2 separate regions of the Homo sapiens genome follow, and region 2 is linked to region 1. Evidence: fine-mapped QTL for protein levels in blood plasma. Region 1 holds a variant in brackets. A gene starts in the other region. All regions are shown on their forward strands. Region 1 overlaps RFX2 (regulatory factor X2). Region 2 holds the start of DNAJC6 (DnaJ heat shock protein family (Hsp40) member C6).

The links. PIP is the posterior inclusion probability: the model's chance that the variant is causal. The UK Biobank Pharma Proteomics Project read protein levels with antibody pairs (Olink). The fine-mapping took linkage between variants from a reference panel, not from the people measured, so its PIPs are less certain.
Region 2: DNAJC6 starts here. The variant in region 1 is fine-mapped to the plasma level of the DNAJC6 protein (UK Biobank, PIP above 0.99).

What each region holds. Positions count from the first base shown.
Region 1 is chr19:6,092,347-6,108,429 of GRCh38, forward strand. The region is part of intron 1 of RFX2 (regulatory factor X2); the gene reads right to left. Among named protein-coding and RNA genes, the nearest start is that of RFX2, 10 kb to the right of the region's middle. RefSeq lists an enhancer at 226-931. The variant A/G (reference allele first, on the strand shown) is at 8,076.
Region 2 is chr1:65,300,926-65,317,008 of GRCh38, forward strand. DNAJC6 (DnaJ heat shock protein family (Hsp40) member C6) reads left to right here and starts at 8,618. Exons shown (of 19, transcript NM_001256864.2): 1 at 8,618-9,013. The coding sequence starts at 8,821. DNAJC6-AS1 (DNAJC6 antisense RNA 1) reads right to left here and starts at 8,309. Exons shown (of 3, transcript XR_007066155.1): 1 at 7,570-8,309; 2 at 5,508-5,660. It overlaps LOC112268227 (a long non-coding RNA gene), which reads left to right and starts at 10,319. Exons shown (of 2, transcript XR_002958317.2): 1 at 10,319-15,223. RefSeq lists a silencer at 2,670-2,848.

The DNA.
Region 1 (16,083 bases):
TGACCCAAGAAAGCAGCTTGGGACGGAGGGTGGCCCCGCAGGCTGCATGCTGGGCTGCTGGAAGGAAGGTCTTCCGCTGAGAAGGCAGAAGAACGAGTGCTCTGCTGGAGAATAAAGGTAGCAGAGTTTACAGCCACGCGTCCAGAGGGAATTCAGAGGGGCGGGGCAGGCCGTTGCTAGGCTCGAGTCCGCGCAGGAGTCAAGGGCGACAAGCATGAGCTTGTGGCTGCGCAAACCAGCCCAGCAGCCAGGCCTCCCCAAGAGGCACACGCGAGCATGGGCGCAGCTCACGGTGACAGAATGAGGCTGAGTCAGTCACACGTGGACTGTAGGATAGGCAGAGCTAAGCTGACAGGGAACACGTTCCAGAGGAGGGGCCGGGGGAGGGAGAGGCTGCCAGGGGGTTTGAGCACCTCCTAAGTGGCCCACAGAACACTGTGGGTGAGTTCAGTGTGCATTCTCCTGGAGGGTGGGGACACAAGTTTTCACGAGGCTGTCAAAGGGTCCGGGACCTGCTACTCTGAAATGTTAAGAAGCTAAAGAGTTTGTGTTGGCCTGAGAGGCAAGGAGTGGGACGGGGACTTAGGGCAACGGACACGCATGTGGTAAAAAAAAGGCCCTGTGGTGTCGGGGAGGCGAGGAGGTGGCCCCGGTCCTGCTGGAGGCGGCGTAGTTTCAGGAGAGGACAAAAGTGGAAAGTCACCTTTATAGTAGGAATGGAGCGCAGATGTAAGTGGCGGCAAGCTAACGCCAAGGGGAGGAAGTCCATCAGGCTCAGCAATTTCCCTGCCGCGAGTGGGCAAACATCTCACACGTGTACACAAATATATTTGGACACGGGTGCTTACTGCAGCATTGGCGGTAAAGTGGAAGGTATAACCAAAATGCCTATAAATAAATAACTAAGGCCGGGTGCGGTGGTTCATGCCTGCAGTCCTAGCACTTTGAGAGGTTGAGTGGGGCAGATTGCCTGAGCTCAGGAGTTCGAGGCCAGCCTGGCCAACATGGTGAAACCCCGTCTCTACTAAAATACAAAAAATTTGCCGGGCGTGGTGGCACATGCCTGTAATCCCAGCTACTCTGGAGGCTGAGGCACGAGAATTGCTTGAACCCGGGAGGCAGAGGTTGCAGTGAGCCGGGATTGTGCCACTGCACTCCAGCCTGGGCGACAGAGCAAGACTCTGTCTCAAAAAAATAAAATAAAATAGAATAAAAGGCTAAGTAAGTACTTAGGACAGGAGTGGAATATCAGACCATTAGTAGAAAGAATGAAGCACAAACACAGTAGAAAGTGATAAGGAAAGATACAGGCTAAATATTAGGTAAAAGAGCAGGTGGCAGAAAAGTGAGAAAAATAAGATCTCTTTTTTGAAGAAGAAAAAAAAAACACACAAAAAAACCCTATTAGTCCAGCCATGAAAAGGAATGAAGCACCAACACGTGGTACAAGGTGGATGAACCTTGAGAACATCATGCTAAAAACAGCCAGTCACAAAAGGCTACTTACTATATGATTCCATTTTCATGAAGTTTCCAGAACAGGCAAATCCACAAAGACAGAAAGTGGCTTAGTGGCTGCCAGGGGCTGGGGAAGGGAGGTGGGGAGTGACTGCTTAATGGGGACAGGGTGTCTTTTTGGGGTGATGACTCTGGAATTAGATGGTGGTGATGGTTGCATAACCTTGTGAATATACTGAAAGCCACTAAATTGTACACATTAAGAGCCTGAATTCTGCGGCATGTGAATTACATCCCAATGCAAAAAACACTAAAGAATTCGTATGTATGTTTTACAGGCCTGTGAAATATCTGAAACCATCCACACCAAACTTTTCTTAGTGGTGGGAGGGGCAGAGGAGAGAGGAAGAAGCAGCCAGAGGCTCTTTTTTTCTTTTTTACAATTTGGATTTTTTTTTAATGATGAAAACGTAAGACTTTTATAATGTAAAAGAGAAGCAGTCAGAATTATGGGGACTACACACAGGATCCCAAAGTCCTGAAATGGTCACTAGGGAATTCTGGGGACAGATCACTCAGGTGGCTTGGAGGGCACCACCTGTGTTTCAAAGTCCAGTGATGATCACTTTAGAAAATGGACAACGCTGAGGTCAGGTGGACCCACGCTACTCAGACTTTGTCAGTGACCTTATGTTTTCACGGCTATGAAGTATCTGCACGCCAGTAAGTAGCCAATATAGTGGTCACCTTTTAAAAGGAAGAGTTGACTTAAAACTTGTGCCTGCTTTGACTTTAACACCTTTACCTGTGCAGTCGGTATAGAAGCCAGGGCCACACGTGGCTGCTGAGCACCTGAAATGGGGCTGGTCCGAACTAACATTTCTAAGACTTAGCACACAAAAAAGAATGTGAAATATCTCGACAATAATTTTTCATATAGGTTATATATTGAAATGAATATTTTCAATACAGTTCATTGGATGAAATGTATTATTAAATTACTTTCACTTGTCTCTTTTTACTTTTTAAAATGCAGCTACTAGGCCAGGTGCAGTGGCTCATGCCTGTAATCCTAGCCCTTTGGGAGGCTGAGGCGGGTGGATCACGAGGTCAGGAGATTGAGACCATCCTGGCTAACATGGTGAAACCCCGTCTCTACTAAAAATACAAAAAATTAGCCAGGCATGGTCCCAGTTACTCGGGAGGCTGAGGCAGGAGAATGGTGTGAACCCAGGAGGCAGAGCTTGCAGTGAGCCGAGATCGCGCCACCGCACTCCAGCCTGGGCGACAGAGCAAGACTCCATCTCAAATAAATAAATAAATAAAAACAAATAAATAAAATGCGGCTACTAGAAAATTGCAAATTTCACACGTGGCTTGTGTTATGTTTCTTTATTGGCCGGTAATGATCTAGAAGACACTTAGAATAAATCATCTCAGGATAAGTTTAAGAATTCACAAATATTTTAAGAGATTCTATTTTACTAGAAAGTAAGCAAAATGATTTTTAGATGTAGATGTGATCTCTATCTAGTAAGAACTCATGTAATTTTGACAAATAATTACTCTATTTGGTGTCCCACAAATACAGTTAGACATGGCCTCTATCCTCAAGGGTTTTGCATGGATGGGGTGAGAAAGAAAAGGAGACATACACAGATAATTCCTTACGTGGCAAAAGGTAACAGGTGCAGACTCCAGATGGAACAGGGTACCATAAACAATGGGGCAGGGGAGTCTGGGCAGCATCCCGTCCTGGACCCTGCTGGAGGTGGGGTAGGGAAAATCAGGCAGAGGTGTAAACAAGGGGAGGGTGTGTGGGGCAGGGAAGGGGTCAAGAGACCAAGCTGGGTGGAGCTCGGGGAATAAAGGGGGAAATAGGATGGACCACTTGGAGAAAGTCTACGAATGCGAGTCAGAGCCCCTGGACTGCACCACAGGGGCAGAGGTCAGGAAACTACCGCCCACCACCCAAATCTGGCCCAGCCGCTAGCCTGTTTGTGTATGGCCCATGAGCTAAGAATGGCTTTTACATTTTGAAGTGGTTAGAAAAAAATCAAAATCAAAATATTCTGTGATGCATGAAAATTACATGAAATTCACATTTCAGCATCCATAAATAAAGTTTGATTGGCACACGGCCAGGCCCAAGCTCTCACATGTTGTCTACATCTGCTTTCAAGCTCCATCGGGAGAGCTGAGTAGTTGAGATAGTGACCATCTGGGCCTCAAAAGCTAAAACATTTACTATCTAGCCCTTTATAGAGAATGTTTGCTGATCCCCACTTCCTTGGAATACTAAAACATCCTGTGGGCTTCCTTTGCTCAAATAAAATAAAGGCACTGCTCAAATAAAATAATGGCACTTGCGCCAATCTGCAGAAATATTTATTGAATAGGTTCCTCGAATTTAAAACATTTTCCCTACCAATATTTCTTAAACCCTTGGTAGATATTTCCTCTTATTTGCTAATGAAGAGTAGCCAACAACAAAACAAAAACTAATGTGATACCCTGCAGGTTTCACATTATTGGGAAGCCCTGTACCAGTCTGTCTCACCCAATCAACAGCAGTTTTAAAGAATGTATGCTCATAGTTGATACTGCGCACACTCTCGTTTTTGTTTTTTGTTTTGTTTTGTTTTGTTTTGTTTTGTTTTGAGATGGAGTCTTGCTCTGTCTCCCAGGCTGGAGTGCAGTGGCGCGATCTCGGCTCACTGCAAGCTCCGCCCCCCGGGTTCATGCCATTCTCCTGCCTCAGCCTCCCGAGTAGCTGGGACTACAGGCGCCCACCACCATGCCCGACTAATTTTTTATATTTTTAGTAGAGACGGGGTTTCACCATGTTAGCCAGGATGGTCTCGATCTCCTGACCTCGTGATCCGCCCACCTTGGCCTCCCAAAGTGCTGGGATTACAGGCGTAAGGCACTGCACCTGGCCTCGTTTCTTATAATTTAATCATGTTGCATTAATAAAATATGAGTTCACATGATTTAATTCAACGCACTCCTGGTATTCCATGATGTTCCACCATATCATGTGGTCTCCCCCTCCCAGGGTCCCCCACCATCTTAAGGCCATTGTTGAGGGCAGCTGGAAGCACCAGATTTGGAAGAACACAGAACAAGAGGACCAGCACCATACCCTTCATCTAAGGGAAGAAATCGGAAGTTTACTTTAACAGTCCTGCATGAGAGGGTCTGAACTGGAACAGTATAATCAGAAACAGAAAGGGAAGAATCAATACAAGACCAGTTTGGGTGGTGGGACCTATAGGAAGTAGTGAGTAGAAAAGAGGGCAGTGGGTTAGTGGGGGTGAAGCAGAGTGGGGAGAGGATGAGATGACCCCTAGCCTTCAACACTGGGCAACAGAGGAGACAGCTCCATCTACAGCCTTGGACTAGACCCTGGGGAGGAAGAACGAGCGGTCCAGGCTACTCGGGTTTCTGGCAAGAGCAGGGTGCCCAGGCTGGGACCCACACATCTCTCTTTCACTTGGGCCTTGCCTTTCTTCCTAGACCCTGGGCCCAACCCTTTCTGAAGCAACAAAGAGGGGAAGCAACTAAGGAGAAAGGCAAATTGCATGGAGTTTAGCGGCAGGAAAGATTCCTCAGCTACCTGCCCAAAGGACTGAGACATGCATTAAGATATCTTTACCCTTCTGAGGGCGTGATCATCATTCCAATTCCACCGGGCTTTTACAAGGATTAGAAGTAATACATGTAATACACCAGGCACATAGTATGTACCCATGGGTAACATCATGGCAACCCTTTATTATTATTAATTATTATTATTATTTTAGAGACAGGTCTCACCCTCTCACCCAGGCTGGAGTGCAGTGGTGCAAACACGGCTCAAGTAACTCGTGGGCTCAAGTAATCCTTCCACCTCAGCCTCCTGAGTAGCTGGGACTACAAGTGTGCACCACCAGGCCCAGCTAATTAATTTTTTGTGTGTGGAGACAGAGTCTTGTTATGTTGCCCAGGCTGGTCTTGAATTCCTGGCCTCAAGCTATCCTCCTACCTCAGCCTCCCAAAGTGTTGGGATTACAGGCATGAGCCACTGTGCCAGGTTCCCTTTATTTTTAAAACATAACCTTGGTGATCTAACAGGCACTACTTTTAAAGTCTGGCTACTCCTTACTGAGGGCTGCTTTTTTTGCCCATTTGCTTGATTCTGTGGCCAACGTAACACTCTCTGCTGTTCTTGAAAAACCCTCTTTCTTCTTTTCTTATACAAGAATCAAAAATGTTATCACACAGCATTGAACATTCTTATATAGATCAGAGAAGGTGAATGACTCGATAAATGACGTCATACATGATTTTATCTATGAGCTTTGTAACCAGACAACTAAATGTATAATTTATTCCAGAGTGTCTATTTGGAAACAATAAAAGAACTTTGCTACCCCTGAAGTTTATCCCAGCCTCAGTGGTTTATATTTTGACTTGCATTAAAAACGACCTCTCCTCCTGATGAGAACTGTTACTGGTCTAACTAGAAATGTGGGGCTACATTGCGGGAACTTGAGAAATGGGGGCTCTCCCTGCACCGAGACAGCGCAGTGGGTGCTTGGCTGATAATAACACCTGTAAAGAGGCCGCAAGATAGAGACTTCAGTGAGATGCGTTTTCGTCCAAGTTCGTCAGAGCCACCTGGGCAATGATCTTGAGTCAGTGTCTCTTTGGTGGTTTTAGCACATTCCAGGACCACCAATACTACCATTTACTATTTTTCTTTAACACTCAGCTCTCAAGTTTTGAAGTCTGTTCTTCGTTAAACGTGAGAGGTCAGGAGTGTTATAGAGGGGTTAAAGATACCTTAACACCCACGAGAGACTTTCTCCTCAGCCTACTGGGAAGGCCTAAAAAAGAACTGGAAAAAAAAAAGAGGATTCTGCTTTGGCAGATCCAGTGGTAGCAGATCCACGTGTTGGGAAATGCTTTTGAGCTGGGGAACAAAGCTGGGGAAATAGATCTTTAAGAAAGGGAGCCAAGGTTAGAAATATTTGCCTACAAAGTGAGTAAATTTTATGTAACTCTGTTAATTCTCTGTAACTGCTTCCTCTGCCACTGCTCGTGGCCCAGGGCTGACTTTTTGGGGTGACCCCAAATGTATGCAGCTTTCAAATCTTTCACAAACTGCTTGAACCACAAAAAAAAAAAAAAAAAAAAAAAAAAAAGCTAAGGGTTAAAATACAACTTGCCCTATAACCTTGCTTTCCCTCAGAGCAAAAAGGAGAATTCATTGGTTCAACAAATGCTGAGTGCCACATTTCGTTGCTGAAACAATTCTAATAGACATAACAGCTCTATATTTGTTCCAAATTGACTTTTTAACAGAGTGAAATCTTTGAAAAGTTCCAAAGCAAAACAAGAGACAAATCAAGCCACTGCAATGGGCTGGGACATAGAATTCGGGATTTCATATTCTCCACTGTGTACTCAGCTCCTAGCAATGAGACTCAGCAGCAGCTCTGTTATAAAACCCCTCCCCGCTCCCCGAACTTTCTGGAAAAAGAACTTCATTTGCAATTTTGGCTGGGTAAAAAGGGAAATTAATTAACAGTAGGGGTCTTTGATTAAAATTTCTTTTGAAATTTGGTAAAGGAAAAGTACATATTGAAAGAGCTGGAATGTTAATTGAGATCAAATCGAAAACATGGAGTTTGAAGGTTATTGGATCTCAGGCACGGGCTGCGTGATTTTTTTTTTTTTAAGAACTGAAGGTTTACCATCTTGATGTAGGCCTTGCCGTCCTGAAGAGCACTCGGGCTCATGTGTTTCATTCACTCACATGTTAAATATGAAGCCCTATGTACAACATAGCCTGTGGGAACTGTGGCAGGGGTAGCTGTCTCCATCCTCCAGAACCTTGTCACAATCAAGAATAGGAAATGAGACGCACAAATCACTACCACCTGTCGAAGTGGCCTTGCAGTGCTAAATCTAAGTGCTGAGGCAATTTGCCTGCAGTCCTTGCCACTTCTTGTTGATTAGTCCAGCAGCCCCCAGCTGGGAGGCAATTCTGTTCACCCTCACTCCCACCTCAGGACATCTGGCAATGTCTGGAAACAGTTGGTTGTCACCACTTGGGGAAAGGGGAGTGTGCTTTTGGCAGGTAGAGGCCTGGGAGGCTGCTCCACATCCTACAGTGCACAGAACAGTCTCCCCAACCAAGAATAATCTGGCCCCAAATGTCAATAGTGCCAGGGTAGAGACTCAGCTCTAGTTTATATTTTCCAACTTAGCTCCTCAATGAAAATCTCAAGTTTCCATGGCAAGAGGGGATTAAAGAAGGGTCTTGAGGGAAGAGTAGGATTTTCTTCAGTAGAAATGACATTCCAGAGAAGGGATAAGAAAGTACAAGACCCGTTTAAAGTATGGCAAGCTCATTTGGAGTAGTGAAAGGGAGGCAACGAAAAGGGAGATGGGGCTGGACTGAAGGAAGCCTTGAATGTGTGGTTACAACAAAGGGGAGGGGACAGTTTGTCCGTTTGGCTAACAAAAGTAGTAAGAAAGTGCCCTTCCGTTCCTCCTGACATAGCTCAAAGAGACATGACAAGGCGGTTGGGAGAAGAGGAAGAGATCAGTAAGAATCCAGAGACGAC[A/G]GAGCCCAAGGTCTGTGCAAAGAGCCGCAGGGAGACAATACAGGAAGTGATTAGGCAGGAGGCTTTGGCGGCGACCGGAAGGCTGGAGAATTATTGCCTCTGTAACAGGAGAGGAGGGCTACTTCCAGTAAGAAGGACCAAGACTCCAGAGGCCACTGGCACTAGAATAAGAAGAGAAGTAGGCTCATGCAGGCCCACGTAAATCGGAGGAAGGTGGAAGTTTCCTGACCGGAAGTCTAGGTGGGAGGCGCCATGTTGCGGCCCAGCCGCTGCTACTGACTCCACCATCCGGCAGTTCGTGAAATTAAATAACTGCAAATTGATGAGTCTTTTCTTTTGCATGCTGAGTCTCTCCAATGAGCACACTCATCAGTGTGAACCAAGGCTGGCAATTAATTGAATTATATTGATTTAATTGAATTAATTAATTGAATTATATTGATTTAATTGAATTAATTAATTGAATTAATTAATCATATCCATTTCCAGAAGTAATTTTTACTCACCCGCGTCTGTCATTTTAAAGGTCTGCAGTAAAAATACCAGGATTTACACAAAAGATTTGCTCCTGAGACATATCCTGCTTTTAACTTAGGCTCTGAATATCAGTTGCCAATGGTTTCTAACAATTTTAAATTTGTCTAGTGCCTTCTCCCCTCTCAACTGTCCACATGACGATATATTAATACACGTAAATGCTTAACTAATTATAAGCTCCTCAGATGTTTGATATTTCAGGCCCACAAATATTTTCTAAAGAAATGGATGGAGACCCCAGAGAGCTCCTCACTGAAGTCCCTAGTAGGGTGAATTCTTCAAGAAAACGAATAATTCCTTTTAAAATCAGAAGCACATCTTTTAGTCTGTTTTCAGTGGGTCTGGAATTCCAAATATATTTTTTCTCAAGGCAGGCTACATCTGTCTGTATGTATTCTGAGAAGGACAGGAGAGGTGGGAAAAAGGCCTTCGTGTTATTTTCTTTGGGTTTCCACTGGCCTGGGTGGAGCCCGCATACATTTTTGTGGGCTGGTAATTTTTTTGGAAACTGCTTCTAAGGCCTTTCCCCACAGATCACCTTTTGGACAGAAATGTATCCTTGGAAACATGGCACAGTTTCTAAAAGATAAACAGTTTGCATTTTTAAAAAAGTATAATTAAGTGCTGTTGCAGCTTTAGGAATGGACTTCTATATCATTGGTATAATTTCAACAGTTTTCCAGGAGACAGGCGTTCATGAGTCAAGCCTTCTGCCTTTCTGTGGGGACCCAATCCTTTTTCACATGGGACTTGGGCAAGTCTAATCTTTCTGGTTGCCATTGGATCTCACTCTTCATGGTGCTCAGTTCTTGAAGTTATTTCCTCCTTTGCCTTTTGAGCCTCTGTCCAGGTTCTCCCTCTACCTAAGAGTCCCTTTGAGATCTCTGCTTAGCATGGTTCACAATAGCTGTAAGGTGGAAACCACCCAAGTGTTCATCCATGGATGAATGGGGAAACACAATGTGGCATATCCATGCAATGGAATATTCTTTAGCCTTAAAAAGGAAGGAAATTCTGATGCATGCTACAGCATGGATAAGCCTTGAAGACATTGTGCTAAGTGAAATAATCCAGTCACGGAAACACAAATACTCTATGATTCCACTTATATAGTGTATAGTCATCACATTCACGGGGACATGAAAACATGGGCCGCCCAGTCCTGAAAACATGGCCACACCCCTCTCCCCCATCTGCTGCCTGCAGAACACTATTCTCAAGATGCAGTTCAGATCCACATCCTCTTTTCAGACCTTTCCTCAGCTCCAGGGACAGCTGGCCTCCCCACTTTGTCTGCCCTCTGTGCCCTGTAGAAACATCTAGCAAAGCCTATTTGATACTGACTCCTCTTCCTTGTTGGTCTTTGGTCTTTGTAACTGGATAGGATAGCACTTTACTCAAAATAGGCAATGAATAAATGAATGAAGGATGAATGAATGAAGATTGTATGAATGAATGATGAACAAATGTCAGGAGTCTGAAAAGCAGGTCTTCCGGTAAATGACTGGACACCTTTGATCTGACAGGTACCGGCTGATGTGAACTCTACCAATGATCCAGTTTATACTTCGAATAGCATCCAAACTTTGCCCATGGCCTCCAAGGCCCTGCAGGTTGCCCCTGCCTCTTCTGCCTCTCCTTGCTTTGCTCGCCAGGCATCAGCCACACAACTGCAGGACCTTTGTACCTGCTGCCCCCTTCCTGGAAGGCTCTTCCTTCTGAACCCCACAGCGCTGGTTCCCTCTCCTCATTTCAGTCTCAGCTCAACTGTCACCTCCTTAAAAACTGCTGGACGCCAGGAGCCCAGTCCGCATCACACGGCCTTGCTTTTTTGTCTCTACTGTTCAATTTTTCAGCCAAGTTCAAATACAAGAAGCCTCTTATGGCCAGGCACAGTGGCTCACATCTATAATCTCAGCTACTTGAGAGGCTGAGGCAGGAGGATTGCTTGAGCCCAGGAGTTTGAGGCTGCACTCCAGCCTGGACAAGAGAGCGAGACTTCATCTCGTTTTTTATTATGAATTACCCATCCCCCAGTCTCAGACATATACACAAACACATGCACACACGTCCAAAAAAACTGCAGAGATCTTAGTAGAAATAGGCTTACCATATATAGCACATCTGGGCTTCATTATGTAATAAATGACAAATAATCACTATATTGGACCATTACATGTAAGTTCTACATATTTTTAATGGCTTTTCAGCTTTTTCTCCACTTTGAAACATGGACTGTAGCAGGTGTAAATGGACTGACAGCATTTAAAATCTATCTGCTTTATGTATCATCTACAGGCAGTGGCAAGTCAACTGTACTTTTTAGAAAGTCATGGAATTCACAAACATTAAAAATAAGAATAAGGAATTGCCAGGGCATACAACAGGGTTTTCAAACATGCAAGACCTATGTATCATAAAACAGGAATGCACTTTCAGGAAAAAACAACTGAGGTGCAGCAAGGCCAGGCCGTCTGCTCCTAAGGGCCCAACTCAAGTCCTGGCACGAAGACCAGGCCAGTCCCCGGCTCCAAGTGGCTCATTTCCAGACTCTGACTGTGTTGGCATCCAAGAGCCAGTGATAACAGAGAAGGGAAACCAGTCTTAAAATGTTCTCATCTGTAGAGCTGGCCACTCCCCAAAACTCATCATAAATGTGATGTTTGGGGAGTCATTTCAGAGGGACCCATGCCACAACCAAGATGTAGGACTCCAACAACTTTTCGTGCTGTTTTTGTTCTTACGAAGCACTTATGTTTGCAGAGGGACATATTAGTACCCATGAGTTTCTAGGTTAATTTAAGGGAATTTCCTACCCTAAAACAGACAGCATGAGGCCGACCACTCAGTCAAGCAAGATGTATGTACTAAACGCCTCCTTAGCATTTGGTCCTGGTCAGGAAACCACAGTAAAAAACTGATCATCCCAGGCCACTTACTACTTATTTGCTTCATCCTAATAATAATAATAATAACAACAGTTACTTTTTTCTGAGCACCTATTAGATGCCAGCCCCTGTGCTAAATAGCTTATAGAAATTATTTCTAATATAGCAACCACACGAGCTATTATTATCGATTTCACAGATGTCAAACCTTGCCCCAGAGCCACTAAGCTAATAAACGGTGGCACCACAATTTAACTCCTTCTCTGCTGTGCCCCAAAGCCCTGGTCTGCAACACCCAGCACTATGACCTGCAACTTTTCCTTTCCTCTTTCCCCTGCCCCATTCATCCAGATTCATCCAATTTGGGCTCTACTGACTCAGAGATGGCAATATGAACTTAAGGTACCTATGAGCAATTCTTAATTTAAAAAAAATTTTTTTGGCCGGGTGCGGTGGTTCACGCCTGTAATCCCAGCACTTTGGGAGGCTGAGGTGGGCGGATCATGAGGTCAGGAGATCGAGACCATCCTGGCTAACACGGTGAAACCCCGTCTCTACTAAAAATACAAAAAATTAGCCAGTTGTGGTGGTGGATGCCTGTAGTCCCAGCTACTCGGGAGGCTGAGGCAGGAGAATGGCCTGAACCTGGGAGGTGGAGCTTGCAGTGAGCTGAGATGGTGCCACTGCACTCCAGCCTGGGCAACAGAGTGAGACTCCATCTCAAAAAAAAAAAAAAAATTTTTAAGGGCAGGGTGTCGCTATGTTGCCCAGGCTGGTCTCAAACTCCTGGGTTCAAGCGATCCTCCTGCCCTAGCCTCCCAGGTAGCTGAGATTGCAGGTGTGAGCCACCACACCCAATGCAGCTCTCAACTCTTCATTTCTACATATGCTTTCCCCATAAGTGTCAAGGAAACCATTTGTTTATTCATTTCACAAATATTTCTCAATTGCCTACTCAGCACCAAAATTCTTCTCAGCCCTGGGGATATAGAAGTTAATAAAACAGCTCATGCCTGTAATCCCAGCACTTTGGGAGGCCGAGGTGGGCAGATCATGAGGTCAGGAGATCGAGACCATCTTGGCCAGCATGGTGAAACCCTGTCTCTACTAAAAATACAACAATTAGCTGAGCGTTGTGGCACGTGCCTGTAATCCCAGCTACTCAGGAGGCTGAGGCAGAAAAATTGCTTGAACCTGGGTGTCAGAGGTTGCAGTGAGCCGAGATTGCACCACTACACTCCAGCCTGGTGACAGAGTGAGACTCCGTCTCACAAAAAAAAAAAAAAAAGAAGTTAATAAAACAGAAGTTCCTGCCCTTACTGAGCTGACATTCTAACAAGAGGACAGTGATAATACAATAAATACGTATAACTTATGGTGTGTTATATAGGAATAAATGCTAAGGAGACAGAGAAAGCAGGGAAGGAGGCTGAGAGCACCCATTCTCAAGTGGGTGGCCTGGTGACATCTGAGAAAAGGCCTGAAGAAAGTCGGAGAGCCAGCCCTCCAAATACCTGGGCAAAGAGCTTTCCAGGCAGAGCTGGAATGAGCTTCCAGAGGCCAGCAGGGTGGAAGTGCAGTGAGGGAAGGCATCTAGCTTGGCGATGAGGTCAAAGAGGTATTAGGCTTGGCGGGGAGTGGAGTTAGGGGTGACTTTGGCTTTTGCTGCAGATGAGATGGGAGCCATCGGAGGGTTTCGAGCTGAGGGGTATGAAGTAGAACTTAACATGACGCCGCCTCTCCCAGGGTTAACAGGCCCCGTCTGGCTGCTGGGCTGAGAGACTGCCGAGCACCAGTGGTGGAATCATCCGGGCTAGATGCTGGTGGCTGGGACCAGAGGGGCTGGCAGTGGAGGTGGCGAGGCATGGTCAGGTTCTGGGGAACTACTGAAGGTGGAGTCAACAGGATTTGCTGATGGCTTGGGAGAGAGGAGTCAAGGACAGTCCTGAGGTTTGGCCTGAGTAATGGGAAGAAGTGAGTTGATATGTACCAACGAGTTTGGGGGGTGCTTTGGGAGGAGTAGATCTGGGGGGACTATGACAGGCTCAGCTTGGCCACCTTAAGTTTAAGGTGCCTGTCAGAATCCACCTGGATGTACCCAGCAGGCAGCTGGATAGATGTTTTCTGCAGAGAAGAGCTTAGAATCCTAAGCCAGTCCAGAGCTTCCCAGGCTCCAGTTCCCTATAGGCCTGTTAGGGCCTCTCTCTGGACCTTTTGCCACTCCTCCTTCACCTACCCTTATCCCTTTCGCCCACTTCATTCTGGGTCTTCCCCTATATTTTTTTTCCTGGGAGAATCCTTTTGCTGATCTTAGAGTTTCCAAGAAGCAAGTAGGTGGTTTTCAGTTTTTTCTCTAATTCCCAGTGTATATTCCATCGGCCTGCCCATCCATCCATCCATCCATCCATCCATCCATCCATCCAACAAAATAAGACCTTTCACTACACCAGGCATATGTCTACATGAGAGAACATGAGAACATGACCAGCAGAGGAGCTAATTGCCATTTAAATTCTAGAGACGGAGTCAAAACATCTTTTTAAAAAATACATAAGCCCACAACCCCTTACAACAATACTGAAATCCAGGAAACTCTGAAAACTGGCAATTTTTTTGTAAATTTGGCATGGACTCACTTGGTGACAAAAGCTGGCCTGAATTGACATGAAGTTACTTATGGTCCTTCTCTTCCCCACTTCGGGTGAATATTCATATAGTTCAGTTCAGAAATACGGCTGTGTTTAGTGGGAATGCCCTGGACCCATAGTTTCAGAGACAGGCCCACAGACTCGCATTCTCCTCCCCTGCAGTTTAGTGAGTGTCCTGACAAGCAAGATGAGAACTTCCCTTGGTTTTTCAAAAGTTTCCTATTTTACAAGTAAGTGGGTACCTATGGGGGTATACTGTTTAAATGTTTGTAAATATTTAAATATATTTGTTTTATATTTAACATATATTTATATTTAAATTTTATTATATTTAAATATATAAGTATATATTATATATACATGTTTTAATATTTCAATATATATTTTAAAAATATTTAAATATTTAATAAATAGATGTCAACTTTAGAAACAAATATATATTATAAGATGTGGTTCCTTCTGGCCCCAGCATTTTATGAGCAAAACAATCACTAGCTACTATAAAAATCCACAGGTGCCGGCCGGGCGCGGTGGCTCACGCCTATAATCCCAGCACTTTGGGAGGCCAAGGTGGGCGGATCACATGGTCAGGAGATCGAGACCATCCTGGCTAACACAGTGAAACCCCGTCTCTACTAAAAAATACGAAAAATTAGCCGGGCGTGGTGGCAGGCGCCTGTAGTCCCAGCTATTCGGGAGGCTGAGGCAGGAGAATGGTGTAAACCTCGGGGGTGGAGCTTGCAGTGAGCCGAGATGGTGCCACTGCACTCCAGCCTGGGAGACAGAGCAAGACTCTGTCTCAAACAAACAAACAAACAAACAAAAATCCACAGGTGCAGGGGCCGGGTTTGGTGGCTTACGCCTGTAATCCCAGCACTTTGGGAGGCCAAGGCGGTTGGATCATTTGAGGTCAAGAGTTTGAGACTAGCCTGGCCAACATAGTGAAACCCCATCCCTACTAAAAATACAAAAATTAGCCGGGTGTGGGGGTGCATGCCTGTAATCCCAGCTATTCAGGAGGCTGAGACAGGTGAATCCCTTGAGCCTGGGAGGTGCATGTTAAGGTGAGCTGAGATCTTGCCACTGCACTCCAGTCTGGGTGACAGAGTGAGACCCTGTCTCAAAAAAAAAAAAAAAAAAAAAAAAAAAATCCACAGGTGCATTTAAAATTTTGACTCGATTATAATATTAAAGTTAAGCCAATTTAATATTTTTATTAATTATAATGCTAATGTAAAACTAAACAATTAGATCTAAGGAATAAGACCCAGATAAACAATTCCCCAGCACCTGCATTTCTGGTGGACAGAACCATCCTTAGCAGTACTTCAATGATAAACAATGTTAAAAGATGAGTATTTACATTTAAATATACATCACATACACATTATATTATATTGTTGTATTTAAATATACATCACACATACATTAAGGTAATGCGTGCCCTTCACGCAGAAAGCAAAGATCAAGTGATTTCAAAGAACTTGTCCTGTTATTGAGGTAATAACTGTCTCTCTCTTCTCAGATTCAGTGGTTTATAAGAAAGAACTTAAAAAACTAAAATATTTCAGTATTGCTTTTCCTGCAGGAGCAAACTATTTCAGAACTCATTCCCAACCCAAGTCCGTTGAACTGTCACAGAATCACAGAACAGTGATCTTTCCCATCATACATTATAAGTTGCCTTCCGTACCACGCCTGTTGATGAAGAAGCCCTAGTAATTCAAGAACTTAAATTCTTTTCCTAGGGAGGTTACCATAAACTCTTACTTCTCTGGTCAGAGTAGGTGAGTTGTCGTTTCTAAGGTTATTTTAGAGTCAGTTCAAGTCTTTAAACTAGAGCAGGAGAAAGCACAGATGCCCCCCTCCTCCTTATCCAGAAGGACGGGAGGTAAGGATCTTTCCATAAGCAAACAATGTTTCAGGGCACGATGT
Region 2 (16,083 bases), not on the chromosome of region 1:
ATGGGGTTGCAAAATGAAGCATCCAGATTTTAAGGATCTTGAACATAAAATCACACATAATGGGCTCAGGGCCAAACATGGGACTATCCAGGATTTAGGAAAACTTTCACTTCAGTGTTGGTTTGCAGCTGACTTTGGGAAACTATTTACCACATAAAAATTTCCAGTGTTTTCTTCAAGACTGAGAGAAGTCGATCACAGAACCAGCCCACTTGAGAAGCTGAAGTTTTCCTACTTGTAAAATGACAGATGAAAAGGACTGATGCTTCCATGAGTTGCTCTTGAAATGGTAATGTAGGTGTATCTGTGTGTGGAAAAACACACTCAAAGTGCCTTTTCTTATTTTCTCACAACAAAAATCAACACAAATTAAAGGCTTCTGTGATCAAATGGGCACTTCCCCCCCCACAAACAAACAATCAATTCTGCAGTGGACACCAGCTGCGTGTCCTCCAATTCTGAAACTATCTACCAGGAGATAAGTGTCAGATACCACTGACACAGTCCCCAAAACTGCTCCCCCAACCTACCACCTCCACTTTCAGACACCAGTTGCAAGTCTGGGCCTCTAAAACTTCTGATCGACCAGATTCAAGTTTGGGTTCCCATGATCCCCTCTTTGGGTTGATTAATTTGCTGGAGCGGCTCACAGAACTCAGGGAAACACGTTTATTGGGTTATAATAAAGGATATTACAAAGATACAAGGAAAGGGATGCCAAGCTGCCATGCCCTCTCTGGGTGCACCATCCTCCAGGAACCTCCACTTAGCTATCTGGAAGGTCCCCAAACCCTGTCCTCTTGGGCCTTGTATGAAGACTTCATTGGGTAGGCATGATTGAAGCATGGACAACTGTGTTAAAATGTGATTCATGGACAAAAAGTATATGATCTAAACCCAATAAGGCCTGTTTAGACTCTGTTTGTCTTCTCTGTGCAGCATTTCTTCCCCCAGGGATGGGGCAGGACACCCTCTGGGATGAGGGTCTTATGACCCACAATCAGATAAGAGTCCTGCCTTGGACAGGTGAAAGTAGGGAGGTAGAACATCAGAGAGAGAGAGAGAGAGAGGGAGAGAAAGAGAAAGAGGTTTTGTTTACTATGTCGAGGGCTATGGGAGTTATACAGGAACTGTGGATTTTATATATAATACGTATTATATATATTATATATATAATATATAATATATATATATATATAAAAAATATATATAATACGTATTATATATATTTATTATATATTATATTATACATTTATATATTATGTTAATATATACATTAATATATTATATCAATATAATATACTATTATATTGATATATTAATATATAATATTATATATATTATATATTATATAATATAATATATAATATATATAATATATATGTTACAGTATAACATTGCTGTGGTTTGAATATCCCCTCCACAACTCATGTTGAAATTTAATTGCCATTCTGACAGTAATAGGTGGTACCATTAACAGGTGATTAGGCCATAAGGGGTCCACCCTCATGAATGGATTAATGCCATTACTATGGGAGTGCACTCTTGATTAAAGGGAGTTTGCCTCCCCCTTAACCCCCTTGCTGTCTCTTCCTTTCTTTTTTTTTTTTTTTTTTTTTTTGAGACGGAGTCTCGCTCTGTCGCCCAGGCCGGACTGCGGACTGCAGTGGCGCAATCTCGGCTCACTGCAAGCTCCGCTTCCCGGGTTCACGCCATTCTCCTGCCTCAGCCTCCCGAGTAGCTGGGACTACAGGCGCCCGCCACCGCGCCCGGCTAATTTTTTGTATTTTTAGTAGAGACGGGGTTTCACCTTGTTAGCCAGGATGGTCTCGATCTCCTGACCTCATGATCCACCCGCCTCGGCCTCCCAAAGTGCTGGGATTACAGGCGTGAGCCACCGCGCCCGGCCTGTCTCTTCCTTTCTTATCCTCTCTTGCCTTCCTGCCTTCTATCATGGGATGATGCAGCACGAAGGCCCTCACCAGATGTAGGCTCCTTGATCTTGGACTTTCTGGCCCCAGAAACTGTAAGAAATAAATCTCTGCTCTTTGTGAATTACCCAGTCTCCTGTATTCTATTATAGCAGCACAAAATGAACTAAGGCAAACGTTGTTATACTATGAGCATGTCCTTGAAAAGTCAAGGATAAGTTAAATGTTAGCAAATGGAAATGTGTTTTTTAAGTGAGCTCATTAAAGAAACCAGAGCGATTTTTTCTGTAAACTAAAGATGGCTTCCAAAATAAAGTTTTTTGGTATTTTCATTCAATTAGCAGATACTTACTGAACACCTATTACTTGGCAGGCACTGTGCTAGACCTCATAAAACATGATGGGTGTTGTCTTCACCTGCCAGAGTTGCTCAAAATACGTGAATAATAAATTGACAAATATATTCTCAGACTAATATACGGTCAAATAATAACATTTGTTACATCGGTTATAAAAGTTTTTTAACATATTAACATTTAAGAAATCTTGGGGTATCTTAAGATTGATAGTATGTCATACTTTCTTTAGTAGCATATTTTTCTTATGTTGTGACTTAAAATGGATGGTTTCTTAGATTTGATAACATGCAGTATTTAGGGCTTTAGTGTTTATTATGTGCTTCCATGCGCCTCATTTGATTCTCTCTTCTTTTTTTTTTTTGAGACGGAGTCTCCCTCTGTCACCCAGGCTGGAGTGCAGTGGCATGATCTCGGCTCACTGCAACCTCTGCCTCCCAGGTTCAAGTGATTCTCTTGCCTCAGCCTCCTGAGTAGCTGGAGCTACAGGCACGTGGCACCATGCCCAGCTAATTTTTTGTTTGTTTGTTTGTTTGTTTTTTAGTAGAGACGGGGTTTCACCATGTTGGCCAGGCTGGTCTCGAACTCCCGACCTCAGGTGATCTGCCTGCCTCAGCCTCCCAAAGTGCAATTTCCATAAGTTGCCCAAACCATTTTCCACTGACCACACTTAGTAAGGCAGGTCAGATCTAAGGAATGACCTAAATGTCCTTCAGCTTTCACTTTGATCAGTGGAATTGCCTCTTTAGGCTGCCTCAGTGGCCAAAGCATGATCAGAAAGATGGAGGTTTGAATCCTAACTGATTGTTGTGTAACCCTGGGCCAGTTACTTAACCTCTCCAAGTCTGCCTCAAAATAAGAATAAAATCTTTAGATTTAAGGTAGGTAAGGCACCTGGCAAATGATAAATAATCAATGGCAGTTATTTTGTTACTATTAGAGCATCAAGGAAACACAGGTTTCATGATATTGGGTTATCTTAAAGAAAAAAAAAAAGCCCTACCTGGGAAATTTGTCCTATTTTCTGGAAGACCCAGAACCCCATCAAACACCAAGAACAGATATCCCCACTCCTAAGAAACATTATAGGAATAGTTCAGATTTTCTTCTGTTAAATGTCATCCATCAGCTCACCCGATTTTTTCCAGCAGACCTCCTCTTCTATCTTGTGTGTTGCTTTATATGTCGCTCTTGACAGCTGCTACTATTTATGCATGCATTTCTATAGCAAAACCTTGATTAACTGGGACACAGCAAACTGTAGCACTTAAATGACTATGGTTTTCCCCTATGGACATCATTTGGAGGAGAGAGGGAAGTGACAACTAAAGTTTTGAGAACTGAAGAGAATCATGTAATTCCACATCTTCGATTTTACTGCTGAGAGAAGGAGAATGGATCAAGGCCACCCTGCTGATTAAGAGCAGAGTCAGGAGAGGATTCTCGGTCTATTTTGCTTTCTTCTGGACTGTGGCCTAAAGATGTGTCTTTTGGCATCTCTCTTGGGGGTATTTCTCCTTAAGGTTTTGCCACTACACTGCAGGTCTCAAACTCAAATGCCTGCAAGGGCTAACTGGTAATAGGAATGAGTGGAGGAGGCTGAGTATTCTACATTGGGAAGTAGTAGTGAACTATGGTCCTCAGACTGGAGCCTATATACCCTCTGTAAAGGCATCTAAACTAAAATGTTTTTCATTTTAAGAAGTACAGGACCGACAAAACACATCTGGGAGTCAGAGATGGCTTGATGTTCCCCAGTTGAAGTGCCTTGCACTATGTATATCTATAGGCCTTATTCAATAAGGAGATAATCTGGATTATGGCCCTCAGGCACATTGCCAAAGTAAGTTTCAATACTGTGCATTGATTTATGTTTGTTAAAACAGAAAATTGAAGAGACGCATTTTAGAAACCTGATCATAATATATTTTGTAACAGAGAGAACAGAGTAGAAGCTCTGGCTTCATTTACTGTCTGCTTAGCCAAAACTCTTTGTGGTCCAATTAGCCAAATGAATTCAGATGTCACAGTGTATAGGACATTCATAATTGGGAACACTAGGACCTCTTAGTACCAGAGATTGTCCCATAACATAGACATTCAAAAACATTTATAATCAGGACACACAGTGAGAAATACATTTATATCATTACTGAGCAGAAACATACACACACTCATACATATCACACAAACCCAAAACAATATTTTAAGAAACAATATCTTACTGCGTTCCAAACTCTGATGTTTTCCAACCTATTTCATTTTTATGAAAATACTTTATAATTTACTCATCGGCTACAGCATATAGTTTAAATCACTGGACTAGGTAATGCCATGACATTTTTGTTTATTCATTAATTCAGTAGATATTTACTCAATATCTAATGAGAGCGAGGTGCTCTTTGGAGTGTCATGGGGGACACAAACATGAACAAAACATGGATTTTTGCCCTCAAAGAGTCCAAATCCAATAGGAAATACATACACGTGAATATTTAAAAACTCAGGGCAAAACAATCAGTTCACATTTGACAAACTGCTTTTATGTTATCATAGTCATAATGATAACAAATCTCTTAGGTAAGCTGGGCAGATTTAAACTTAATTTTACAGATGGGAAGTTGCATTTTTGAAAAAGTGACATTTTAAAAAGAAGTGGAATGATAGTAATAATAGATAGCATATGTTAAGCACTTATTATATGTTAGGAACTAATTTACTTCTTACTATAACCTTATTATGATGGCATTACTATAATCCTCACTTTACAGAGGAGAAAAATGAGGCAGAGAGGTTAAGTAACTTGCCCAAAGTCATAGAGCCAGGAGTCATTGGAACTAAGAATCAATCATAGGCAACTTCAATTTTTTTTTTTTTTTTTTTGAGACAGAGTCTCGCTTTGTTGGCTCACTGCAAGCTCCACCTCCTGGGTTCAAGCGATTCTCCTGCCTCAGCCTCCTGAGTAGCTGGGACTACAGGTGCCTGCCACCACGCCTGGTTATTTTTTTGGATTTTTAGTAGATACAGGGTTTCACCGTGTTAGCCAGGATGGTCTCAATCTCCTGACCTCGTGATCCGCCCACCTCAGCCTCCCAAAGTGCCAGGACCACAGGTGTGAGCCACCACACCTGGCTGGCAACTTCAATTTTAATCAATGTATTATATTCTCTGGAAATGAAAATCACAGATCAAAATCCTACATAGGTCATGGCATACATACCTTGATCTCTTAGCCCACCCCAAAAGTGATGTGGCATCTGCTGTGACAGGATAGCATTTGGAATGAGGTGTGTATGAAGGGGATGGGGTGGAATAGAGCCTGGTTCCTCAGTATTCCTCAGTGTCACTAATCTTCATCAAGTTAATAAAGCACCTGAAGGCAGCAAGAGAAAAGACAAAGGGAATGATTGCTGTCCCCAGAAGAGGGCATCTTATCCTTTGCCGTTGTCTCATGTATGATGTAGTATTTTTGAGATAAGTTATGAAGTAGTCTTGAGTTTGGAAAACCAAGAGTTAGGCTGTAAATGTTCACCTTGTGTTTGACCAGTGCCACCTCCCTTAAGCCCAAATTCTCATTCAAAGTTACAAAGACAATTTTCCATTAGGATATCCCTGGAAAAAATAATATTTAGCCTTTATTGAGCTTTTCCCATTTGAAAAACTAAGACTGCCAGGCGCTGAGCTTAAAGCTGCACCCAAGACAGACCAATAATGGTAATAGAGAACAATTGTTAAGTACTACTCTCTCTCTCAATCTGTTTCTCTCTCTCTCTCTCTCTCTCTCTCTCTCTCTCTCTCTCTCTCTCTATATATATATATATATATATATGTTAGGTACTAATCTAATTCTTCTATATAATGATGGTACTCATATTATGCTTGTTTTATAGAGTAGAACAGTGAGATATTCATTGATAAGTATATGAATTTGATCTTTAGCACAGTAAAGAAAATTTTAATGTTGAAATTGGTGCATATCCAAATTTAGGCCCAAGCCCTAGTTTTTAGGCTGTTGTAAATTAACCTAGTTATTGTATTTTCCTGCCTTAATATGCTTCTTATATCTTCAATTTTATAGGATTATTAATAGTTATCCTGATTGACTTTATTTATATTAAGTATAAAGATAAAATTCTTATAGCCCATTCAGATTTTTCTTTACACTTGCAAACTCCAGAGATAGATATTGAAAAATACAAAGGCATATGTCTCATCTATAATTTCTTTCAGCAATATGTCTGCAAGTTGAGCAAAAATAACTGAAAGTGCTCTTTTTGAAAATAATAATTTTCACTTTTCAAAAATGATCCTGTATTTATTTATTTATTTTTTGAGACAGGGTCTCAGTCTGTCACTGAGGCTGGTTCTAAATTCTATTAATCCAATGATTATAGTCCAGCATTTGTCAGGGCACATGATGAACACTAGGTATTTACTGTCCCTGTGTGTCTGTAATGAATTAAAAGAAAAAGTACAGAGAAAGATTATTTAAGATGTTATGGGAAAAGATTTACTAGACTTCACAGAATTATTACTTTAGTCAAGTAACTAAAATAATTCAATCTGACAGATTTGGAAAATTGAAAGTATAAAAATTTGTTTTAAAATTTTTATTGCAGTTTTTCCTGCCACCATTCAGATTGTTTGATCTTGTTATAAATGAGCATTAACTCTGATTTGCAATTCAGGTCACACCATACCTCATCAAAGAATGCAGTTGGGAAAGCAACTGGCCAGGAAGTTTAGGTTTCCCCAGAAGGACTGGAAGGATTTAGAAAACATTTCTTTGGACTTCTTCTGGTTGATGCTCTTCCTACAAGAATCTGTGTTTGGGTGATCCTTGTACAGGAAAATGTCTCTTAGTCCAATTTATTTTATGTAGAACTGTGTAGAGCTAGAGCTTCCCGGAAACTTTCTGAGACCCAAATCATCTGGACTGAAGTCTCTTAGATGCTATTGTTTGATTTTGTGTCCTTAGGTGATTGATATAAGGACAGCAAGAGAAAACCATGTAAGATGAGAAGAAAGCAAAGCTGGCTTTGTGTATGGGCTCAAGTACATTTTACATGCACGTACTTTTTTCCTGTTTTGGTGAGGAAACTCTGTCAAATGACTCTTGACGGGCGCCTCACTTAGTCCCTCCAAGTTTTAGTAGAGAAAATGATAATTTTTAACCAAGACTTACTTGATCTTGACCTAAGATGATGAGAATGAGCAATCCTTCTGAAATCTTATTATTTTAGGTGAAAATAAACATTCGATAATTACATTTTAAGACTTACCAGAGTTTATCCAGGTTTTGTTCAGATCCAGAACTTATACAATGTCGGAGTCTTCTTTTAAGAATACACGATGACAGATACAAAATTAGGTACACAGCTTAATTAACTTCATGATAAATTCTCTTCTGATTATGAGTTACTGCTTTCTTTGGCCAGAATTGTGAAAGAAAAATAAGGCGTGAGGCTAGAGGATGGGGAAAAAAAATCCTTGTCTATCTTGCTTCCCAAGCAGGCCTTCAAGCTAGCTAACTGAAACAGTCTTTTCTCCAGGTCCTAAGGTAAATGGTGGCGGATCTGAAAATGCGTCGGACTTAACCTTGCCCTTCTCCCCAGTTTATTCGCTCAACAAAGAGTTCTAAACAGTCACATCTGCTCTCTAGGCAGAACGGACGCTGCCTCCTAGTATTAGAATACCCAACTCTTTGATATCTCCCTTAGGGATCATCCCTATTCTGGAGAATGTGCAAAATATTGCTCTTCCTTTATATCCTAGCATAGATATATTCTGGCACTTAACATGCATTCTTTTTCTGTTGAATTGAGTTACAAGTCAGTTCTCTAGGACGGTTACCGTCCTGGTGGCTTTGGCGGAATCTTCCGGTGAAAATAGGCTAAGTTGCATGAAATGGGTGTGTCTGGATTTTACCACAAGACCCCTGGTCCTCAAAGCTTCGCAGGCCGAGATACCTCGCCCCTTTCTTCTCTGTCACACGCGTGCGAACACACCCTCCCAACCCACGTCGTAGTAGTCCCCTCCCCCGACCACCCCGCCCCGTTTCCCTTCAACCCCCCTCCTCACGAACCTCCCCTCCCTTCCTACCTCCCTTTCCTTCCCTCCCCGCGGGCCAGCGGCTTTGGCGCTGCCCTGCTGCGCGGCGGGGCGACGCGGCGACACCTATAGGATTGCTTCCGGGCACTCCTCAGCCAGGAGGTGCTGGCCTGGGGCCCGGAGCTCGGCAGGGCCGGGCGGCTCCGCGGCGTTGGCCCAGAGGACGCGCGCCCCCGCCCGGCCGCGTCTCCTTCCCTCCCTCCCTCCTCCCGGCGCCCCGAGCCGAGCTCAGCCCAGGGCGGCGGCTTCGCCTCGCCCGGCGAAGCTTCTCTCCGGTGGCCGCTCCTTCTTTTCCCTCCTCTTTGCGTCATGTCGGGCACTTAATTTTTTTTTTTTTTTAATTCCTTCTTCAGCCCTTTCCACCTTCCATCTCCCTTTTCGCTTCCCAGGTTGATTATTTTCTCTTTTCTCCGGGCTTGCCCATGAGCCTCCTCGGGAGCTACCGGAAAAAGACCAGCAACGATGGTTATGAATCTTTGCAGCTGGTGGACAGTAACGGGGACTTAAGTGCGGGAAGCGGCGGGGTTGGCGGCAAGCAGAGAGTGAACGCCGGGGCAGCGGCGCGGAGTCCCGCCCGACAGCCTCCGGACCGCGCCAGCACCATGGACAGCTCAGGTAGCGCTGCCCGAGGGGAGTGCAGCGCTGAGCCCCGCGCGGCCTCCGGAGCCTCCCAGTCGCCCGGCCCGAGGCCCCCCCGTGGTCCCCCAGCCCCGGTTTGCGAGAGAGCCGGGCTGGAGGCGAAGGCTTCTAATACCACCTGGGTGTCGAGTCTCTAATTTCTCTCATCCAGGGAGCTACGAAACGTTAGATCAGTCCTGAGGCCCAGAGACTGTAGCGAGCTCCTCCTAATCTCTCTAGACTGCTGAATACGGCAGCTGGGGGCGGGGAGGGGGAGGGAAGGAGGAGGGGAGGGGTGGAGAAGAGAGGGGAGCGGGTGGGGCGAAGAACGGCTTGGGAGGAGGGCTGGGAGAGGCAGCTGCTTTCACTGCCCAGCTGGATGAGGGGGAGAGGTGAAGGAGCATGTGCGTTGATTGTTTTTGCAGCATGCAGACGGTATTTATTCCAATTGTTATTCTTGCAATGCTGATGCTATTTGCAATTCTGTAAAGCTCTGCCACATCTTAACTCAGCCGTCTGCTAGGGTTAATGTTACCTTTCTCCTGCAGTTTTTAACCTGGGATCTAGAGCTCTTTTACACAGCTTTTACTGTTTGCACAATGAAATTTATTTCATGTGTTGGCTTTGATCTTGTTTGTCCTTTTGCTTGAGTGTACAGATTTCATAAACCTTTACATGTAGGGACAAGGAAATTCCTCTAAACTTTGTATCGGGGCTTGCAACTGTCTTTTATAAAAGGTTTGGCAAGTTAGAGTCCTCTCTTGGAACTGCTGTTGGCATTTGCGATTTCAATAGCAAAACAGTCATTTAATATATCCATGTTGGACTAGGAGTATTATTATAGCTATTTGCTTACTTCTGCAGGGAACCAGGTTCGGAGAATTGTTTACAGAGATATTTATAATTGAAGTCCTCAGTGGTTGGTTCTACACTGGTAACTTTAATACTGGACAACTGAGGATTCCAGAGGAAAGATTCATATGGGGTCGTTTGAACAGTAATGAAATCAAACTGAATTTAAATGCCCTGCTTTGCAAACAAATGCTTGTTTATTTTAATTGTGTAATGGCTGTCCTTGGGCTATTATTTTCTATTTTCCTTGTCCCAAAGTGGGATGAAATATTGTCCACAGATGCTCAAATGTCCTGGGCTGAAAACAAATTCTACTCATTGAAGCTCTTATTGAAGTTAACCAAGATATTGATGGGACATTCTCTTAGACCATTTTAAATAAAACTAAAATGATCCCCAAGGGATTGATGGTTTCAGGACTGTTTTTTTTTTTTTTTTTTTTTTTTTTTGAGGCGGAGTCTCACTCTGTTGCCCGGGCTGGAGTGCAGGGATGCGAACTCGGCGGACTGCAAACTCCGTTTCCCGGGTTCAAGCGATTCTCCTGCCTCAGCCTCCTGAGTAGCTGGGATTACAGGCACCTGTCACCATGCCCGGCTAATTTTTGTACTTTTAGTAGAGACGGGGTTTTGCCATGTTGGCCGGGCTGGTCTTGAACTCCTGACCTCAGGTGATCTGCCTGCCTCGGCCTCCCAAAGTGCTGGGATTACAGGCATGAGCCACCGCGCCCAGGCAGGACTTTTTTATTGATGTTGTATGTGGTTATTCAATGTATGTTTTTTCAAATCTGTGATATATCAAAGTGTAATCCATCTTTTGACTGGATGTAATCTCCTTTAAATCTTAAAAAGATTCATGTTCTCTGAATGATGCCACCATAATAATGTTTACATGTAGTGAGCATGTAAACAATTGAAATGAAAACAAACATATTCCAAATGAGTGTGAAGGAGCCTCACTTCAGGAAAATGAAAGAAATATGAAATACATATGTTTTCCTTTTTCATAGGGATTATTATTTTAAGAGTTGAAATTGGTTTTTGAAATATGTTACATTGTAGAATAAGTTCAACATACATTTTCTGAGCCCAGCTATGTGCCAAGCACTGTGAGGGAACACAGTAGTGAATGAGATCCTTCTGGCCTCTAGGGGACTCTCAGTGGGGGCAGTAACTATAACACAGAGCAGCCTATGGTAAGTCCTGGATTTTTGAGGATTGTCTTTTTCACTAAATCAGACTTTTTTAATAGGTGGAGAGAAGAATAATGGATTGCTTTAATAATCTGTTGTGATGGGAAAGTGTTTCATTAAGAATATTGTTATCTCTAAAGTGCTATTGCCAGGAGTTGATTCTTAAACTTGATCAAAGTGGTGTTGTGTGAAGAGGCTGCAGGGATTCCTTTTCTCCTCCCCTTATCCATCATTCACTCCTATATTTTATTAGGGGAATATTGTGGCTTTGTTGTAGAAGTACAGGGTATCTTACAATGATTTTGATGCATATTTTCAACTGAGAATGATTTGTTTGGTTTGAATGAAGGATTGGACTCTGAGAGTAGGATTCTTTTACTAGTACAACTATATGTCTTGCCTAATTATAGTTCTTTCTTCTAAGATCCTCAAAGTGTGGCCTGTGCAGTGTAAATATATCCATTTGTTTAGTATATCTAATTAAGTTCATGGATCATTTCTAAAGTGGCAGTAATCTGCCCATTTATTCAACTGATTGTACTGTGACATGCTGGATAGGATCAGTGGTTTATGGGACTTTTGCTCTGATAGAAATATTAATGAGTGGAAAAAATATGTTGACATCTCGCTACATGATTTAAAGCTTAGTCTTAATAATACCTTAAACTTGTAAGACTGTTTATAATAGAACACTTGGACAATTCTCTTATTTCATTTCCCCAGAATTTTATTAAATAGGTTGGGGAAGCAGCATGTGTCTGTGCTTGGAGACTTGGGATCAAACCTCTGCATTATTGTTACTCGCTGAAAAACCTAGTAACCTTTTTCTTTTCTTTTCTAGACAGATAGCTCTGTCACCCAGGCTGGAGTGCAGTGGTGCGATCTCAGCTCATTGCAACCTCCACCTCCCGGGTTCAGACAATTCTTGTGTTTCAGCCCCTCAAGTAGCTGGGATTACAGGCGTGCACCACCACACCCGGCTAATTTTTGTATTTTTAGTAGAGACGGGCTCTTGCCATGTTGGCCAGGCTGGTCTCGGACTCCTGGTCTCAAGTGATCTGCCCGCCTTGACATCCCAAAGTGCTGTGATTACAGGGTCTTGCTCCATTGCCCAGGCTGGAGTGCAGTGGTGTGATCATGGCTCACTGCAGTCTGGACCTCCTGGGCTCAAATGACCCTCCTGCCTCAGCCTCTTGAGTAGCTGGGACTACAGGTATGAACCACCATGCCTGGCTAATTTTTTTTTTTTTTTTCTTTGTAGAGATGGGGTTTTTTGCCATGTTGCCCAGGCTGGTCTCAAACTCCTGGGCTCAAGCGATCTGACCACCTCGGCCTCCCTCCCAAAGTGCTCGGATTACAGACATGAACCACCATGCTTGGCCTGTTCCCATTTATAAAAGTGGAATCATAAGAGCTGTTCTTACCACAGAGCTTTAGTTGAGGCTGAAAACAATATAAAAATACATTTGCAGTTTTTCTTTACTTTGTATCTTGCCCTTTCAATTTATCATATGAAGAAACTTATTCTCAGAGGTGGTAGGAGACCTATCAAAGGTAGAATAGATAATGACAGCCAGACTTAGGTCTTCTGACTCAAAGGTTTGAGTTTTTCCCCATTGAACTAAACTTTTGGGTAGACACAATATCAACTGATTGTTGAAATGGAAACATTTTTATCTACTTTGATTTCCCCCCTGTTTTTAGATAAAAGAGGGGTACATGTTCAGAGGAATGTAATGGCTTTCTAAGTCAACAGCCTCTCAAGTGGTAGATACCAGAGCAGTCTCCTAGCCAGATGTGACTTCCAGAGCTCTCTGCCTTCCCTGGCTCACTTTCTCTTCATTCAAATTATTCTCTAGAAAAGGTTGTCATTTAAAGGTCATCCTGTCATATCTCAAAGGCACTGCACTATCCCAATGCCGAAAACCCCCTATTTCTCTTGTGTGCACCCCACTTTTCAGGGAAAGTAGAACCACAAAAGTAGAACTTTCAATATTGAGCTGCTAAAGTGTTCCAATATTGGGCTTAATTTACCAAGTTCATAATGACAAACTGAAAAAGAGTAGTCCAATTAAAATCTGGAAACAGATATTAATACTTTTTAAAGAATAAGTATAATGATAGGTAAGGATTTCTCTTTTGATTCTCACTTTTTAGGCTTTGTTCTATATATTTAAATATATAGAAATTCACATATATAAATAAACAAAATATTGTATATATTAAAAAAAAAGAATAAGGATAATGAACAATGCTAAAATACCATGTAGTGTGAGTCTGGTTGGAAACAAAAATTACCTTTAACAAATTCTATTTTAGTTAGTGTTTAAACACAGCATCCACATTTTGAACCAGGTTTCAACATTATGAGATACGTGTTTGGATAATTGTATACTTCATGGAAGTATAATAAACATATATGTACTAATAATCCTTTCTTAAGAATATCTGCCCATTGAAGGGTCTTGTAGGTTGGAGGCAAAGTTTATTTATATAACTTATTTTTTATTTTTTTTTTATTTTTTGAGACGGAGTCTCACTCTGTTGCCCAGGCTGGAGTGCAGTGGTGTGATCCCGGCTCACTGCAACCTCTTCCTCCTAGTTCAAGCAATTCCCCTGCCTCAGCCTCCTGAGTAACTGGGATTACAGGCACCCACCACCAGCCAGGCTAATTTTTGTACTTTTAGAAAAGACGGAGTTTCGCCATGTTGGCCAGGTTGGTCTTGGACTCCTGACCTCAGGTGATCCGCCTGCCTCAGCCTCCCAAAGTGCTGGGATTACAGGCGTGAGCCACTGTGCCCAGCCAATTTATATAACTTATTTAATGTGTGGTTATAGTTTGGATGTTTCTGGATAATCGTTTAAAGATGCACCAGTTACTGGATTACAGAATAAGATACGTCAATTTAAGTTTCAAATTTCAAATGCTTGGAGACTGCCAGATTTCATAGATTTGGAAGGGGAATCCCTGGAACCAAATCTCGGAAAGTTGGCCAGGTAGCCAATGGTGGACACTTTCTGTGATGGAGCTTTAGCTACTGGGGCAGTGTCTTTGAACTGTTCTCATCAGTGCAGAGTTCTTTTTATTTGGGCAAAATCAGCCTTTCTGTTCTCTAGATACAAATTATGTCTAATCCTTCTTTCACATGGTAGCCCTTAGACAACAGATTTTTGAGAACAGGTACTAATTCTCTCTTAGTCTTAATTTTCCTCTTTTCTAGGCCAATCAAACCTAAGTTCCACATGCTTTTTTCTCTATATAAAATGATTTCCATATAATTATCCTAAGCTTTGAGAATAATGTTTTTTTTTTTTATTATTTTGCACAACAGGGGTTTTCACCAATTTTTATTATAAAAGGTTAAAAAAGAATTAAAGATTACAGAAAGGAATAAAATGAGAAAAGTTAAGTATTCTCTCCCCTCCCTGATCATTTAGGTCCTTGCCTCAGAGATAACTTCTACTAAAAGTTTCTGGAAGGACTTTCAACGTACAACATGAGTGTGTGTAAATATATATGCTTTACACATATATGTATATGTATGTGTATACCATTAGAATTATAATAAAATACAAATTCAAAGTTTAACCATGTTCATATATGTACATTGTTCAATAATGCTTAATGACAAAAATAGCTACAATTTAATTATTATAATTCAGGGATTATGCTAAACACTGCATATGGTGTCACATTTAACCCTCATAAGAATCCTATAAGGTAAATGATAGTAACGGTCATCTTATAGTTGAATAAACTAAGGCACAGAGAGGTTAAGTTGCGTGAGGTTACACAGGCTCTACTTATTCTATATTGAGTAAAATGCCATAGAGAAATGCCCATACGATTGCAAATGAAGAATTTAGTGGTGAATTTTTTTATTTGCTTCTTTCTCTGAGGCAAGGAAAAATAGGAGTGATTGAGAGAACCAAAATGAGTTCAGTTGTTTTTTAATCCCATGAAAGTACAAATATGTTTTCTTTACTTAAATATAAAGAATTTAAAAACACTGGAAATGAAAACAGCAAAAACAGCATTGAATAAAGCTGATTAAGACTTGATACGGCACTGAGAGAACAATACAATTGATGAAGCATTATATATTTTTGGAAAAATATATTGCAAATGAAAATGGATCCCCACTGCTCTTAGGATAAAATCCAAGGTATTCTTAACAGGACATCAGAAGCCCTTTGTGGCACCTGTGAAAGCTGGCCCAACAAAACTTGTTGTCGCTCCACTGGTAGATCCCCTCCCCAGCCTGCACCTCCATCTTTATGTTTTTGCATACACTGTTCTCTCAACTCAGGCCAACTTATCCCATAGACCCCTGGACACCCACTTTTCCAGGTTATCTCCTATTCATTCTTCAGGGTTTAGCTCAGATATTCCTTAATCGCAGGCTGCATGCAATGGTCATTCTCCATGCTCCTCAGCAGCCTTTACTTCCGTATCACAGCTCTCATCACATTGAGTTGTGACATGCTGCCTGGCCTGTCTCTCCCTCTAGTCTGTAAGTAAAGTTCAGAGCAAGGCTGGGTCTTATTTGCCTTTGTAGTCTTGTCATTGCTTGGCATTTATTAGGAGCCTGATAAATACTTGTTGGATGCACAAAAGCATGAATGGATTTTGAATTTTTAAAAGGGCATTTATAATGAAATATGCCCATCCAAATCTAAAAATAAGCATACAGCTAGGTTTTAACAGAAATGAGGCCAGGTTTGAGAGAAATGTAACTGTTGGTCGAAAGCTAGACCAATTCAGTAATGAGCATTTTTTCATATGTAAAGACACTGGAAGTGAAAGAAAGATGGTTAATATATAGCCTAGATCCTTAACAGTTTTCTAATATAGACATGTCAAGAAAGAATTAGCTTACCAAAAGATTGTGCTTTTTCGACCAACAAATACAATCTACTGTATGATTCATCATAAAGGTCACTTTTTTTTTTTTAGCCAAAAAAGGAAACTCAAAATGTATACAATTTTTTTAATGAACTGACAATAGATGACTTTCATCTATAG